Linked DNA regions of Homo sapiens. The protein of the gene in region 4 purifies or fractionates together with the protein of the main gene of each other region. This does not show direct contact. Each region holds a gene or a part of one and is shown on either strand. Other genes may lie near its edges.

Region 1 (3,500 bases), about 79 Mb from region 4:
AAAGTATACAAACATTTCAAAATTTTAATGGAAATAACTTAGACATTTATTATCCCTCCAAATAAAACAACCAGGAAACAAAATAAAGAATGCCAAGTTGCTATTTTAAGTACTGATAAGTCCTAGTAACACTGATTCATACATTATCTAGTCTTACATTTTGTAAATAAAAGTTCTTCAGCCTTATGGAAATAAATTAGAAGGTATGTTCTCAAAATGGTATTAAGTATATTTTGAAAGACTTCCAAAAATCTTTGACAATTATATATTATACATTCTCAGAAAAAAGTATATATCTATGTATCTATATATATCACTATAGTTCTATTTACTGCTTTCCAAGTAGCTTTTTCAAATAAAATCTAAAAGTCATTATTATTACAAATTCTAATACCAAAAAATCTCATAACTTATCCTATTTACAAGTTAGTGAGAGTATTATCTACACAAAATTCCTTAAATAAAAAGTAGACATAGTCATACCAGAAACAAACCAAGCAGGAAACAGAAAAACACAGAGCACATTCTATATACAGCTATACCTTTAGGCTTGTTAAGTAGCAAATAACCCTAATGTACACTTAATTACAGAAATAATTACATAAAGATATAAAGAAAAAATATCCAAAGATGTTTAACGAGTTTTCAGCCAGAGGTACTGTACTTATAAATCTTTGAGATTTAGAAATATTTCTGGTTTTGGTCTTATGTATAGGGCCTGATATCAAAATGGTCCACTGCTTAGAGTGAATAAGTGTAAACATTTTCAAAGCAAACAAACCAATCTTTAGGAGCTGCTTTCAATTCTTCACTGCTATCCAAAATATATTCCAATAAAGGTATGAATTATTATCAAAACTAGAGGCTGGCCTAGTCTGGCCTAGAAACGGGTAAGGTTCAAGCCTTGGATGTTGTACTTTGGAAAACACCAAGTAACGCAGTTGCTGGTAAATTTGTTTTCAAAGAAACATTACCATAGCAAAGTTTTCCCTAAAGAGCAGGACTCTAAAATAATTTTGGCACAAGCCAGCATCCACCCTCTCATAACACAGAGTTATCTCAGTTCCTCTGTGCTCCTGTCATGGGGTCTAAAAAGAACATTTAGATAATTTACAAGCCTATAATAAATCTTCAGCTGAAACACATTACAAAGCTCTGACTGTTAAACCAGTTTAAGAAAAACAGAGATGACAGATCTCTTAATAAAACCATAACATTATTAGCTTTGCCTCATGTTGTAAACAGTTATTATTAAATGCTGAATGGCTTCCTGTAGTCTCTTAATAAGTCATGATTTGTCTGAGCTCCACTTTAAACTTTACTACAATGCTTTTTTTCAATGAGAGAACCTATTTGTAAACTTTTAAATTTGCCATAAGAGACTGGGAAGCTTATAGATACATGGGGAGGTCTCAAAAGTTGACAGCGAAAGGTGTTAGCATAAAAGAGGGAGATGCTGATGAAGTCATCTGGTGTACCAGGAGGAAGAGATGGAAGGATTCAAAGAGAATACTTCTAGATCAAGGGAGGACTATCACGGCGTTTAAGGGAAAAGCACTCTCAATGCCTCCTCTAACTCCAGATCCTCTAGCTTTTCATTGTTCCTACACACCTCACATGTGTTTTGCATCAGAACTCACTTTCAGTAGCTTTAATGTATTTCAATGAGCTGTGTTTAAGGTTGGGAAGATATATGTGCATCCAGAGACACATGAAGGGTCTCGCTGTATGCTGGCTCGCACCTGAGAAACACTGTGCTACTCTTGATAAAATTATCTAAGTTCAACTTCTTATGGAATCCAAACACATAAAAATACATAAACCTTTATGAAGTATTATTGATGATGTCAATACATGAACTTTTCCATTTCAGCTAATAGACTAAACCACCTAAAGCTATTCAAATGCACATTTATTTAAATGTTTGGAATTAAGAGCAACCTAGAAACAGAAAACGTGTTCAAATATTTATTTTAACAGCATCTTTTGGAACATGTTTATTTCCCTTAAAAACGACACAGAGGAAACATGTACACTGTAACAACACCTTCCCCTCTGTTTCTCCAGAAGAAAAATGTTTCTGCATGCCTGATAACAGATGGTGCAACCAACAGTAAACCTGGCTCTCTACACCAGTGAAGAACCATTCTCCAAATGCCCAGTGTGCCTCAGAGGAAATATACAATTTAAAAGTTGACCCTGTAGCAAAAATTTTGAGTCAAATTATTAAAATTTAGAAAAGAACTGGATTCAAATACTTACAAACTAGGCAGTTTTTAAAACTAGACCTTTAAGACCGTCCTGGGTCATCCATAATATATCAGAGTCACTCTTAGGGGTGGTAACAACATAAATAGTATTTCACTTAACGTAAGGCTAGTCCATGAAATAATAAAATCAAACAGTTGGGATAAAAATTTAATTCAATTTACTGTAGGGTATCAACACATATTTGAGCAGAAGTCAATTTCTTTGCACTCATATATAACTTCATTTCCAGTTTTACATAAATGCAAATAATCCTTTAAAAGATTTTAGACATAAGAAGGCAAACTTTATAAGTTATAGCTCATAATTTTCAAATTTTCACAAATAAAAATTTAATGCAGGATCTATGATCTTGCATGCTATTAGTTGGTTTTCATTCATTTTTTAAGTTTCACAAGAACTTTTATTTTCTAGGATACTACACATTCAAAAAACATCTTTATAATTACAGGTTATCTTTTTTCTACAAAAATAGAATTGCTCAAAAATTTATATCAATTTGCTTTTATTTTTCTATAAATATTTTAATAGAGTTGTTAAATATCAGAATGCCTGATAGAATCATTTAAATTAATCCGTGTAGTCAAAATACTTAATATTTAAAATGTCTAGCAAACGTTTTTCATTTAATAAATGAAAAATTCATCGTGCAGTAAATGATATGTTCTGTCTTCATTTGTATTTTAGGTAGGTGAATACAATCATAGAACAGCAAAGTGTACCTCCTGCAAAGGTCAGACTTAAAAGTAGCAGGGCAGTTTCTAGTGGCATTTCCATTCCATGTCTGTTGTATGAGGAAATATATAGAACCTACTTCAGGATATTTAATCTGGATGTTGAATTAACTCATGCAGCCAGCATAAGATAAGGATTGCTGAATAAGAGAATCACAAACTTTAGTTCAAAATTTTGATGTTTTAAATATACTTATTTAGTGAGTGGCTATACCAGTGAAGGGTAACATTAATGAAAGTAAGAATGAAGTTTTAAGCATGAAACAGTAACTATAAAAACAAACTGCTACATGGAGACTCACTAATATAGCTTTATATTGTTTTCATTTTGATAGTGGGTTTAAAATCTGTGTTCAGAACTATAGAAATATCCAGAGTCAAAAAATATTTATCTCAAGGTCTCTTTCTAAAAGAATGAATTTCCAAAATAGTTTTATTATATAAATTTTTTTAAAGCCACTTTTCCTGCAAAAAGGTAAGAACAAGATAAAACCGCTT
Region 2 (3,500 bases), on a different chromosome or scaffold from region 4:
TCTTGGTGGTGATTACTGGTTTGTATTTCAATCGAAGTGAAACAAAGTAATAATCATTTAATTACTATCAAATAGAAAATGCTGCTATTAGCAAAATGTGTCACCTTCCAAAAACCTAATGAAATAAACTCTCTTTTTAATTTGACACTGTGAGTTACTTTAAAATAGAGAGCAAACAATAAAATGTTTCTTTATTCAAAAAGAGAGAAAGGGAAATTGAAAGGTATCTATACAGGGTTGATTAAAAAGTTAAACTGTCCATTCAGCTTCCCTTATTTTAATGGTTCTGGTGCGTTAAAAGAGAACTACAGAAGAGTCAAATATCTTTAAGAAAGGGAAGGAAAGTTAAGAGGACAGTATCTATAAGGGCTAGGTGGTTAGCTGACATCCCTTTCCATTTAGAATTAACCTTGAAATTGAAGCCACCCCCAAAATAACTCAATGCCTCTTCTACCAACGACCTGGAACCACACAGCAAACTCAAGAAGATAATTAAGGCTTTTCTGTGGATAACATTACTCCTAATTGGTATCAATTCCTGAGTCCTAGATACACAGATGAGAACTTAAAAAGAAAAAAAGAAAAAAGAAGTGCTTCAATTAGGCCATCCACTAAAAGGATTTAGGTGATAGTCTATTTCAGGGGTGTCCAATCTTTTGGCTTCCATGGGCCACATTAAGAGAAGAACTGTCTTGGGCCACATATAAAAGACACTAACACTAACAATCACTGATGAGCTAAAAAATAAAATAAAAATTGAAAAAAAAATCTCACGTTTTGAGAAAGTTTATGAATTTGTATTGGGCCACATTCAAAGCTACCCAGGACTGCAGGTTGGACAAGCTTAATCTATTTGATGAATGTGTGAAACACTATTTTTAACAATTTATTATTGACAGAAATTGCCTTGAGATTGTTGCTAAGGGTATTCCTATAAAATTTTAGTTAAAAGTAGGTTCTAGGGCCAGGCGCAGTGGCTCACACCTGTAATCCCAGCACTTTGGGAGGCCAAGGCAGGCAGATCACGAGGTCAGGAGATTGAGACCATCCTGGCTAACACAGTGAAACCCCATCTCTACTAACAAAAAAATAGCGAGGCTGAGGCAGGAGAATGGCATGAACCCGGGAGGCGGAGGTTGCAGTGAGCAGAGATAGCGCCACTGCAGTCTGGCGTGGGCGAGAGCGAGACTCCGTCTCAAAAAAAAAAAAAATTCGCAAGGCATGGTGGTGGGCGCCTATAGTCCCAGCTACTCGGGAGGCTGAGGCAAGAGAATGGCGTGAACCCGGGAGGCAGAGCTTGCAGTGAGCCGAGATCGCGCCACTGCACTCTAGCCTGGGCGACAGAGTGAGACTCCGCCTCATAAATAAATGAATAAGTGAATGAATGAATGAATGTACGTTCTAGGCCAGGCACAGTGGTTCCCACCTGTAATCCCAGCACTTTGGGAGGATGAGGTAGAATAATCACTTAAGGAGTTCAAGACCAGCCTGGGCAACAAAGTGAGAACCTGTCTCTATTATTTAAAACATAATAATAAAAAGTGGGTTCTAATGGCTCACAAAAATGCTGGCCTTTAATTATTAGACTCCACATATACAATCTGTAACATTTGGCACTATGTTTGTAAAGAGTAACTGAATATGCACTCCAAAATATGTCACTTTGACATACGGATTATTTTGAGCTGAAGGCAACTGAGAAGCAGGTACTATACAAAAAAGCTCTCTGCCCTCCCCTTGTTTGCCTAAAAGCAGGGTATACATTTACCAAGGTGTCCCCACTTCCCCTTTCCACCAGGAAGTACAAAGGTTGATCAAGAAAGACAACTTTAAACTTTTGGTGGCCTGGCAACAGCACAAAAGGAATCTATATAACACTTTACTAACTAACCTTTCTCTACCATTTATTTGCCTTCCTTCAATTTGCCACCCCTCGAGACTCAAGGTCCTTTTCCTTTGTCACTTCTCTAAAAATGTATTGTTTGGTTGAAGATGCTACATAAGCCAGATTTCTAAGCCACCTCTTTGAGATGTACTCATTTTCCTTGAGTATCTCCCATGTACATGAAGTGCATGTGTTAATAAACTTCTATTTGGTTTTTCTCTTTTTAACCTGTCTTTTGTTACAGGGGTCCACTCAGCTAAGAACTATGAAGGGTAGAGGGGAAACTTTTTTCTTTTGTCCCTACATTTGCTGCTAATTCTTGTATATACAGCCTTCTTATATAATGTTCTTAAGCAACCATGGTGTTTATTTGCCGCTTCCCAGAATTTAAGCATCATAATAGTGGGCAAAGAGTGACATTTATTACTGCTTTGAAATGGACATAAAAAAACCACTGGTGGCCGGGCACAGTGGCTCACACCTATAATCTCAGAAATTTGGGAGACTGAGGTAGGCGGATCACTTGAGGTCAGGAGTTCAAGACCAGCCTGGCCAACATGGTGAAACCCTGTCGCTGCCAAAAATACAAAAAAAATCAGCCGAGTGTGGTGGCACAGTAGGAGAATCGCTTAAACCCGGGAGGCAGAGGATGCAGTGAGCCAAGATTGTGCCACTGCATGCCAGCCTGGTGACAGAGTGAGACTTGGCCCCCCAGCCAAAAAAAAAAAAAAAAAAACACTAAACCACTGGTTACCCCAGCAGCACACGAAGGTACTTCTGGCTTATTTAACAAACGTGTGTATACTGATTTTTGAAAATGCAAGTTACATTCTAAACGCAATTGTCAAGCTTTCTAAATGAAGATATTCTAATATGAATCATTTTATCAAGCAAATAAATTTTACTTACATTTTGTATAACTCTAGACGTTCAAATTTGGCCTGCTATAAGTTCGAGTAATCCAGAAGTGTTAATATTACATAAGAGTTAATAAAAACTTTTAAAAATCACTTTCCATGCCAGGTACTATTTTAGCGTTTTACTTATTTTTAATCCTCCAAGCAACACTATTAGGAAAGTACTATTATTTTCTCCATTACACAGATGAGAAACTAAGAAGTTAAGCAATTTGCAAAAGGGAGTATTAATTACACCCTAATATTCTTTTTCCTTTCAAATGTAGCTGAAAGAACTGACTGGCCAGGAAATCCAGCATCTTATCCTAGTTTTGTCTCTGATCAGCGATGACCAGCTAGCTAAATGTACTCCTGTATCAAATGAGGGGTTCAGCCAGATGCCATCTCAGGTCTTGTCTACCACTAAAATGCTATGCCATTGTAAATGCTATTTTCCATCCCTATTTACAATCCCTTTAACCACTGAATACAATTTTCTGAAAAATAAATATTTTAATAAATGGAAGTTCAATTTAGGGGATTCCCATTCATTTGACAAATATATACTGCATCAGGCACTGTCCTAAATGCAAGTATTCTATTTTGCCAAATGATTTTCAGAGAAAGATTTACACATTAATTAGGTACTTTAACAGTATGGCACCCTCAGTGGAGCAAAATTCTCACTTTATAGGTCAACAGAATCTGCTAGAAGAGAT
Region 3 (3,500 bases), on a different chromosome or scaffold from region 4:
ACAGGGTTTTGCCATATTGCCCAGGCTAGTCTTGAACTCTTGGGCTCAAGCGATTTGCCCACCTTGGCCTCCCAGTGTGCTGGGATTACAGGCATGAGCCACCACACCCAGCCAATATCTTGCATTTGAATCAAGTAGTGGACATTTATTGGATCCCTTGGGGCCGATGCCATTTCTAAAAGTGATTGAGTAAATATCACAGGTGGGCAAATCAAAGAGAAGGATATTCTGGTTGTTTCAAGGTCCAGGTAATTCAGGCCATGGCACAGGTGATCCTGAGCTTAGGAAGAACTCACCCATGCCTCAGGGGCCCAGCTGCCCTCCTCCCCTCACTGCTGGAGCACCTACAACAGCTGTGAAGCATCTTGTGCTTTTGGAGCCTTGACATGGGAAGGAACAGGAGAAAGCAGGACTGATGTCTCCAGACCACCCCTTAGGCAAACCCTCTTTGGTAGCATCTTAGACCCAAATATTTTTTTCCTTCACGTCACGTTGCCTGAATTTTTTCACCTTAGTTTGTTGTACTGCCAAATATTTTATTTGGAATAACAAGTACCTTTGAAAAAAAAAAAGCACATACAAACTTCAGCTCCCCTTTGAGGCTTAGCTCCAACAGCACCTTTCCTTTCCTTCTTAGAAGTAAGCTTTCTGGGTTTGAATTCCTACAGCACACATTCTGACTCATAGCATCTGTGACTTGTTATTTCACATTTCCATGGATGCATCTCATCTGCCTTGCTGCACTGTAGGCCCTTCGGCTTTTATTTTTTTTTAATTCTTAATCTTTATGGGTACATAGCAGGTATATATATTTATGGCATACGTTAGATGTTTTGACACAGGTATGCAATGCCTAATAATCACATCATGGAAAATGGGGTATCCCTCTTCTCATTTATTTGTGTTACAAACAATCCAGTTATACTTTTAGTTATTTTCAAACGTACAATGAAATTATTGACTATAGTCACCCTGCTGTGCTGTCAAATACCCGGCCTTATTCATTCATTATAACTATTTTTGTCACCCATTAACTATCCCCACCTCCCTCCCACCCTCCCTCACTACCTTTCCCAGCCTCTGGTAACCATCCTTCTATTCTATATCTCTGTGGGCTCAATTGTTTTGAGTTTTAGATCCTGTGGCCCCTTTGACCATGCAGATCATGGCCTATTCATCTTCACACCTAGATAGGAGCCTGCGCAGTGCCTGGCCAGGAGCAGGCATAAGTGTGTGCAAATAGAGGAATAAATAGCAGGGCAGCAACTATGTCTGGAGGTCATTGTCTTTCCTGTCTCAGTAGTAATCAATCACTGCTTATCTTCAAAAACCCAGAGTAGGGGATGGGGCAGTTAGTGGGGACAGAGGGCAGATGGGTAAGATTCAGAGCACAGGCTAGTGTGACGGAAGTTTAAACTTGTGAGTTAAATAGGGTTTGGCAATCTAGCTGGATAGCATCCCTGCCCCTTGAAGAGATGTTTTTGTGGCGCCACACTACTGACTTAGGCATAATGCCTAGAGATGGATTAGAACTGCACAATGAACTAGTGGTGAGGTTCAGTTTAATGGAAATTGGTGAAAGCTTTTAGGATAAAATGATAATCTTTGTTTCTTTCAGGAAAATGGCAGACAATTTTTCGGTAAGTGTTTTATGCCTGTTTCTTCCCCTTGATCAGCTCCACATGGTTGAGGGTTGGGGGTTTTGTTTTTACCATGACTTTCCCTTTTCACTCTCCCACTGCGTGGCTTCCCCTGGACTCATTTGTCCAATGAGGGCTTGCAAGCTGGAGCCTTGTTTTTCCAGCAGCAGATTTGGGAAGAAAGCCAGGCAGAGCGAGGCCTGGGACTCACTCACAGTAACCCTTTCACCAAAAGGCCCAGGGCGGAAGGGAGTGGACTCTGCCGGCAGGAGCTGAGAAATCCTCTGAGTAGCGGGAAGTGCGGTACAGTCTGGGCATTCTGATGTTTGTGATTGTTTTTCTCACGGTGATGAAAAAGTATGTGCTATAAGTAGAGGAGCGCTAACTCCTGACTTGAGCTAATTATGAAAATGCAGCCCTCCCTGATCTGAGACGTTGGGAGGCAAGAATAAAGTGAAAAAGTATATGTAATCCCAACATCTAATTTTAGTCTTAGAAACTCAAACTATTAATAAGTGGAAAAAGTTTAATGATATGCATGTAATGCCTTTGCCATATTCCTCTCCTTCTTAGATCACATATTCCTATTTTCCTGAAAATTCTGCTTTTGAGAATGCTTTCTGTCCCGTAATTGTGTATGTCTTTCTTTCCAGCTCCATGATGCGTTATCTGGGTCTGGAAACCCAAACCCTCAAGGATGGCCTGGCGCATGGGGGAACCAGCCTGCTGGGGCAGGGGGCTACCCAGGGGCTTCCTATCCTGGGGCCTACCCCGGGCAGGCACCCCCAGGGGCTTATCCTGGACAGGCACCTCCAGGCGCCTACCCTGGAGCACCTGGAGCTTATCCCGGAGCACCTGCACCTGGAGTCTACCCAGGGCCACCCAGCGGCCCTGGGGCCTACCCATCTTCTGGACAGCCAAGTGCCACCGGAGCCTACCCTGCCACTGGCCCCTATGGCGCCCCTGCTGGGCCACTGGTGAGATGGCATTCCTTCTTTCATGTACTTGACATGCAGAGGGCTTCAGGGAGACCCTGAGCTTTAAAGCTGCTGCTTAGAGCCACTTCTCAAGGGCCAGCCATGGGTGTATGTTGGTAGAGTCAAAAAATTAAGTGTTCATATTGAGCTTATTGTGTGTGGTTAGTATAAACAGAAGGTAATGAGTATTTTGAAGGCACTGATAAAACTGCTTATGAATATAAATCAAGATTGTAGTAATGGAGAACATTTTGGTTATTATTAACACTTACGGAGTACATGTCAATAGTATGCATCTACATGGATAATCTCATTTAACCCCATTACCACGCTATAAGATACTGTTAATAACCCCATTTCACACATGGGGAAATGGGGCAATAGAGAAGTGATATAATTTGTCCAGGGTCATTGAGCAAACATGTAGAGGAACCAGGGTAATCTGGTTTTGAAAAACCTTCTAAAGATAATTTTGTGATCTAAGGGTTGAATTTTCACGCAAATTAAAATATGTCATAGCAAGTGAATTCTAAGTGTAAAACATAACTCCATGGGGGATCCAGATACATCTCAGCCACAGGATCCTTCCTTTCCAGATTTATAATCTAGTTGGATGATAAAACATATAATAAATATGAGGAAAGAGCTAAGTACCAGTATGGGATTAGACCATTTCAGGACTATGCAGAAGACAGCACAAGGTAGCATTGTCTCCTTTTAGGTCAGTTTAGAGTAGAAAGACTTGGGGGAGTGGGTGGCATTGAGAGGGCCTATACCAGAGATGGTTAGTCAGTTGCAGAGAGAGGGAGACATGAAGGCTGTGGAAAGGAACAGGCAGATGTAAGAGAGATTACAGAGGAAGAACCCCCAGAATCTACTGATT
Region 4 (3,378 bases):
CATTAAAAATATTTAATAAGCTACCAGATTGCTTTGCTGGAAGAAATACATTATTTAACATCATGGATGCTCTATACAGTAGATTCTTTCAATAGCTAAGACACTTCTAAAGTAAGGTACCAATGGATGCAGATCAAGAAAAAGAGAGAAAAAAAACAGGAGACTGTTAGGAAACCAGGGAAAAGCAAATGTCATTTTACCCAGAAGAAACAAAAATACTGTTTCTATTTGTTTATAGCAGAAAAACTGTGCTGCAGAGAACATTATAAAAACACAAGCAAAGGGGTTGTTTGGCAAATAATAAAATGCAATGCTTACTGTGCATCCTCCATGAAGAGATCACTTATGGATTATAGATTAGTGTGATTAAAGGTACACTTTGATGCAAAAGATTATACTTTACCACATATATAATATGTAGCACTTTTCTACAAAGGGCAGTTTATGTAAGTAATAACTTCCACAAAGAGTGAGAGAAACATAGACAAAATGAGAAAGACAGAGGCAGGGTACAGTCAGACAGAAAGACAGAAATGCTGAGCCAAGGGGCTTGCTCATGTCCTGCAGAAGATTTGAGATATTCTTTTTCATCTCAGTGCTTAATTTTTCCTATTACTGCACACTAATACTCACATGCTATAATTATTTCATGAGCTAACCCTCTATACATCCTTCCCTTTAGTTTCTTCCATGAAAAAGAAAAAAAAAGAGAGAAACCTTTAGTCTCATACTTCATTTTACAGTCAACTATTCAAGTAAATATTTCTCTGATGGCAAATTTCCAGATGAATCTAGAATATGATCCAAAACCACTGTCAGATTACATTTGATTTACTATGTAGCTCTCTTCAAATGGAGCAAGAATTAGCCCGTTTCCTAGGTTTGGGTTCTTGTGCTTCCTGATCCTTCACACACATACAGGATGTGCACATTGTCTCAGACAGTCTTCGGAGGCCTAGCCGGAAAACGCTGTTGGAGAGGCTGTATATTACACAGTTACAAAAACTATTACTTATTGCAAGCCAGGTTGTTAAGAAGGACAGAGTTGGATTGTCCAAGACCCGGGAGCTTTCTAGAAGAAAGTAAATTATATAGGGGAGCCACAGCATATAAAATACACTGGTTATCCTAAACAAAACCATGGCGTAGCGACGGTCAGGGCTGTGTCCAGTCTCTCTGGAAGAATCTACCTCATGACTAGGGAATCGGGCTCTTCGGTCATTTATCTCTTTGGTGTGCTGACGGCAAATTTTGAAAATGTGGAAGTAAGTGAAGCAGACAACAAAGGCAGCAGGAGCATAAAGTAAACAAACAATAAAGCCAGTAAAATAGGCACTGGTGAGCCAAGACGTGGCACACCATTCAAAAATGTCACCATGGTAACCAGGTTTCCCCCAGCCAAAAAAGGAAGGCAAGAAAATTAGGCAGGAGTAGATCCAGATCAAAATAATGCAAATTCTCAAGCGACAAGGGGTGACCAGTTGATTGTAGGAAAGAGGCTTGGTTATTGCAAGATAACGATCCACACTGATGCAAGCAAGACATGCCATAGAAACACTTTTTAGAACTGAGATGATATATCCAAAAACCTGGCAAGTCAATGACTCGTGGACACCTGTGGAGTAGTGGAGAAGTGACAGAGTAGGAACCAAGCAGCTAACTCCAACGAAAAGATCAGCATATGCCATCGTCTGAATGAAATAGCTGGTAGTATAATGATGTAACAGTGGAGCACAATGAAAGACAAAGATAACTGTTAGATTCCCAGCAATGATCAGAAATGTCAGCAACACAATAACCACTGTCTCGAAGATGCAGACATCCACCACACTGTAGTGGCCAAATCCAAGTGGGCAGGAGTGACGCTCGGACACATTCACAATGCCACTGCTCATGTTCAGGATCCTCCATTCAGTCCACCTGGATTCATTCATGGCTTGGAAATTTAAAGACACCTGCAGACTTGGCTACAGCAAGCAGATGCCCTGCCCAGCATCTGTTAAACACCGCACATGAGTGTTTCAGAACCTGCTTCAGTAGACAGTGTCAGTGCTTCTGTCACAGCTGAGAGTCCCAGAGAGTGCTCAAGTCTCTTCACCAGCCTCAGTTCAGCAGTGACACACCTCAGCTTTCGGGCGGGGGGGTGGGGGGGGGGCGGTAAGGGGTGGAGAGAAGGGGATAAGCTAGAAAGGAGGTGAAAAGAGGTCACTAATTAGTTTCCTCTGGTGCCCTCAAAGAACTTTTTGCAGACATAAGGCACTTCTAGAGAAAATAGACTTCTTATTATCTTGCACTATGAAAAATTAAATCTGTAAAAAGAAAAAAAATGAATTGCCAAAGGAAGAAAAGCTTCTGTGGGCTGTTCTCCTAAGAGAGGCAGTTTCTTAGGGAGCAACTGGAAAGAATGAGAAAAGAAAAACTCTGAAACTGTCTCAGGCTTCCTGCTTTATCTATGATGAAAAATGCATTCATATTTTAGATTTTAAATAATTTAAGATCTCAAATTTGGTTGAAAAGCTAAGAAAAAGTTCATTGTGGCAAAGAGTGTCTTTGGGCTTAGTTCAGGGATTGATGTTGGGGGGTCAAATTTATAACCTATTTCTCATTTTTCTAAAATCTAAGAAAAACAACTCTATCAAAGTTAATTTGAAAAGATTCATCTCTACATGGGCAGAATAGAGGTAACAAACAGACTCCAGATTGCCCTATAACTCTCATGAGAAAAAAGTATTTTCCAATAGAAAAGAGAATATACAATGAATTAATGAATTAACACCTGGCAAAATGTAATAAACTTCTGAAGTTTTAATTCTGCATGCATTTTTAAAGCATTTAGATGAAAGCAGTTTTAATCCATTACAGTTACTGGTGGTACTAACAGCAACGTAACTTATACCTCTTCCTTTTCAAAATGAATTATTTTTGCTATTAATTTGGCATCTATAACTTAAAATAACATTTGTTATTTCATATACCACCTTCCTTATAATGGAGCATGATAATAAAATATGTAGCTCACAGTTATTTCTCACCTTTGCAACTGTATACCCATATCTCACATATATATGTAAATATAAAGTTAGACAATAAAACTTTCCAATATACTCCGAGCTTATTTGACCAGAAATGCTGCCATTATTTATTACTTAGGTATTTCTAATAGGCTTCATGTTCTATGTTGCTATACCTTTTCTATTTTCAGTAGATGATTTAACACATTAAATCATTACTTCAACTATATCTTCTGAAAGTGGAAAATTACCTTGTTTATTACATTTGCAGTTATGTAGCAGCCATATGTTAAAAAATGCCTCTTCTATTTTTCTGTACTCTATTTTGAGCAAGTGCTCAATTAACACAGGGGCCATTAGGTAGGTT

The links.
Region 1: the proteins of GPR52 (region 4) and TLCD4 purify together in Homo sapiens (affinity purification with mass spectrometry; 3 studies listed by BioGRID and IntAct, with this or other methods). This does not show direct contact.
Region 2: the proteins of GPR52 (region 4) and ERMP1 purify together in Homo sapiens (affinity purification with mass spectrometry; 3 studies listed by BioGRID and IntAct, with this or other methods). This does not show direct contact.
Region 3: the proteins of GPR52 (region 4) and LGALS3 purify together in Homo sapiens (affinity purification with mass spectrometry; 3 studies listed by BioGRID and IntAct, with this or other methods). This does not show direct contact.

The regions. Positions count from the first base shown.
Region 1 is NC_000001.11:95,193,855-95,197,354, reverse strand, and holds part of TLCD4 (TLC domain-containing protein 4), read right to left. Parts: 3' UTR 1-3,500.
Region 2 is NC_000009.12:5,826,618-5,830,117, forward strand, and holds part of ERMP1 (endoplasmic reticulum metallopeptidase 1), read right to left. Parts: intron 1-3,500. UniProt on the Homo sapiens protein: Within the ovary, required for the organization of somatic cells and oocytes into discrete follicular structures.
Region 3 is NC_000014.9:55,135,752-55,139,251, forward strand, and holds part of LGALS3 (galectin-3), read left to right. Parts: intron 1-1,231; exon of another isoform or gene 1,232-1,618; coding exon of another isoform or gene 1,619-1,622; coding exon 1,623-1,640; exon of another isoform or gene 1,641-2,293; coding exon 2,294-2,617; intron 2,618-3,500. UniProt on the Homo sapiens protein: Galactose-specific lectin which binds IgE. May mediate with the alpha-3, beta-1 integrin the stimulation by CSPG4 of endothelial cells migration.
Region 4 is NC_000001.11:174,446,668-174,450,045, reverse strand, and holds GPR52 (G-protein coupled receptor 52), read right to left. Parts: upstream 2,083-3,378; 5' UTR 1,935-2,082; coding exon 849-1,934; 3' UTR 501-848; downstream 1-500.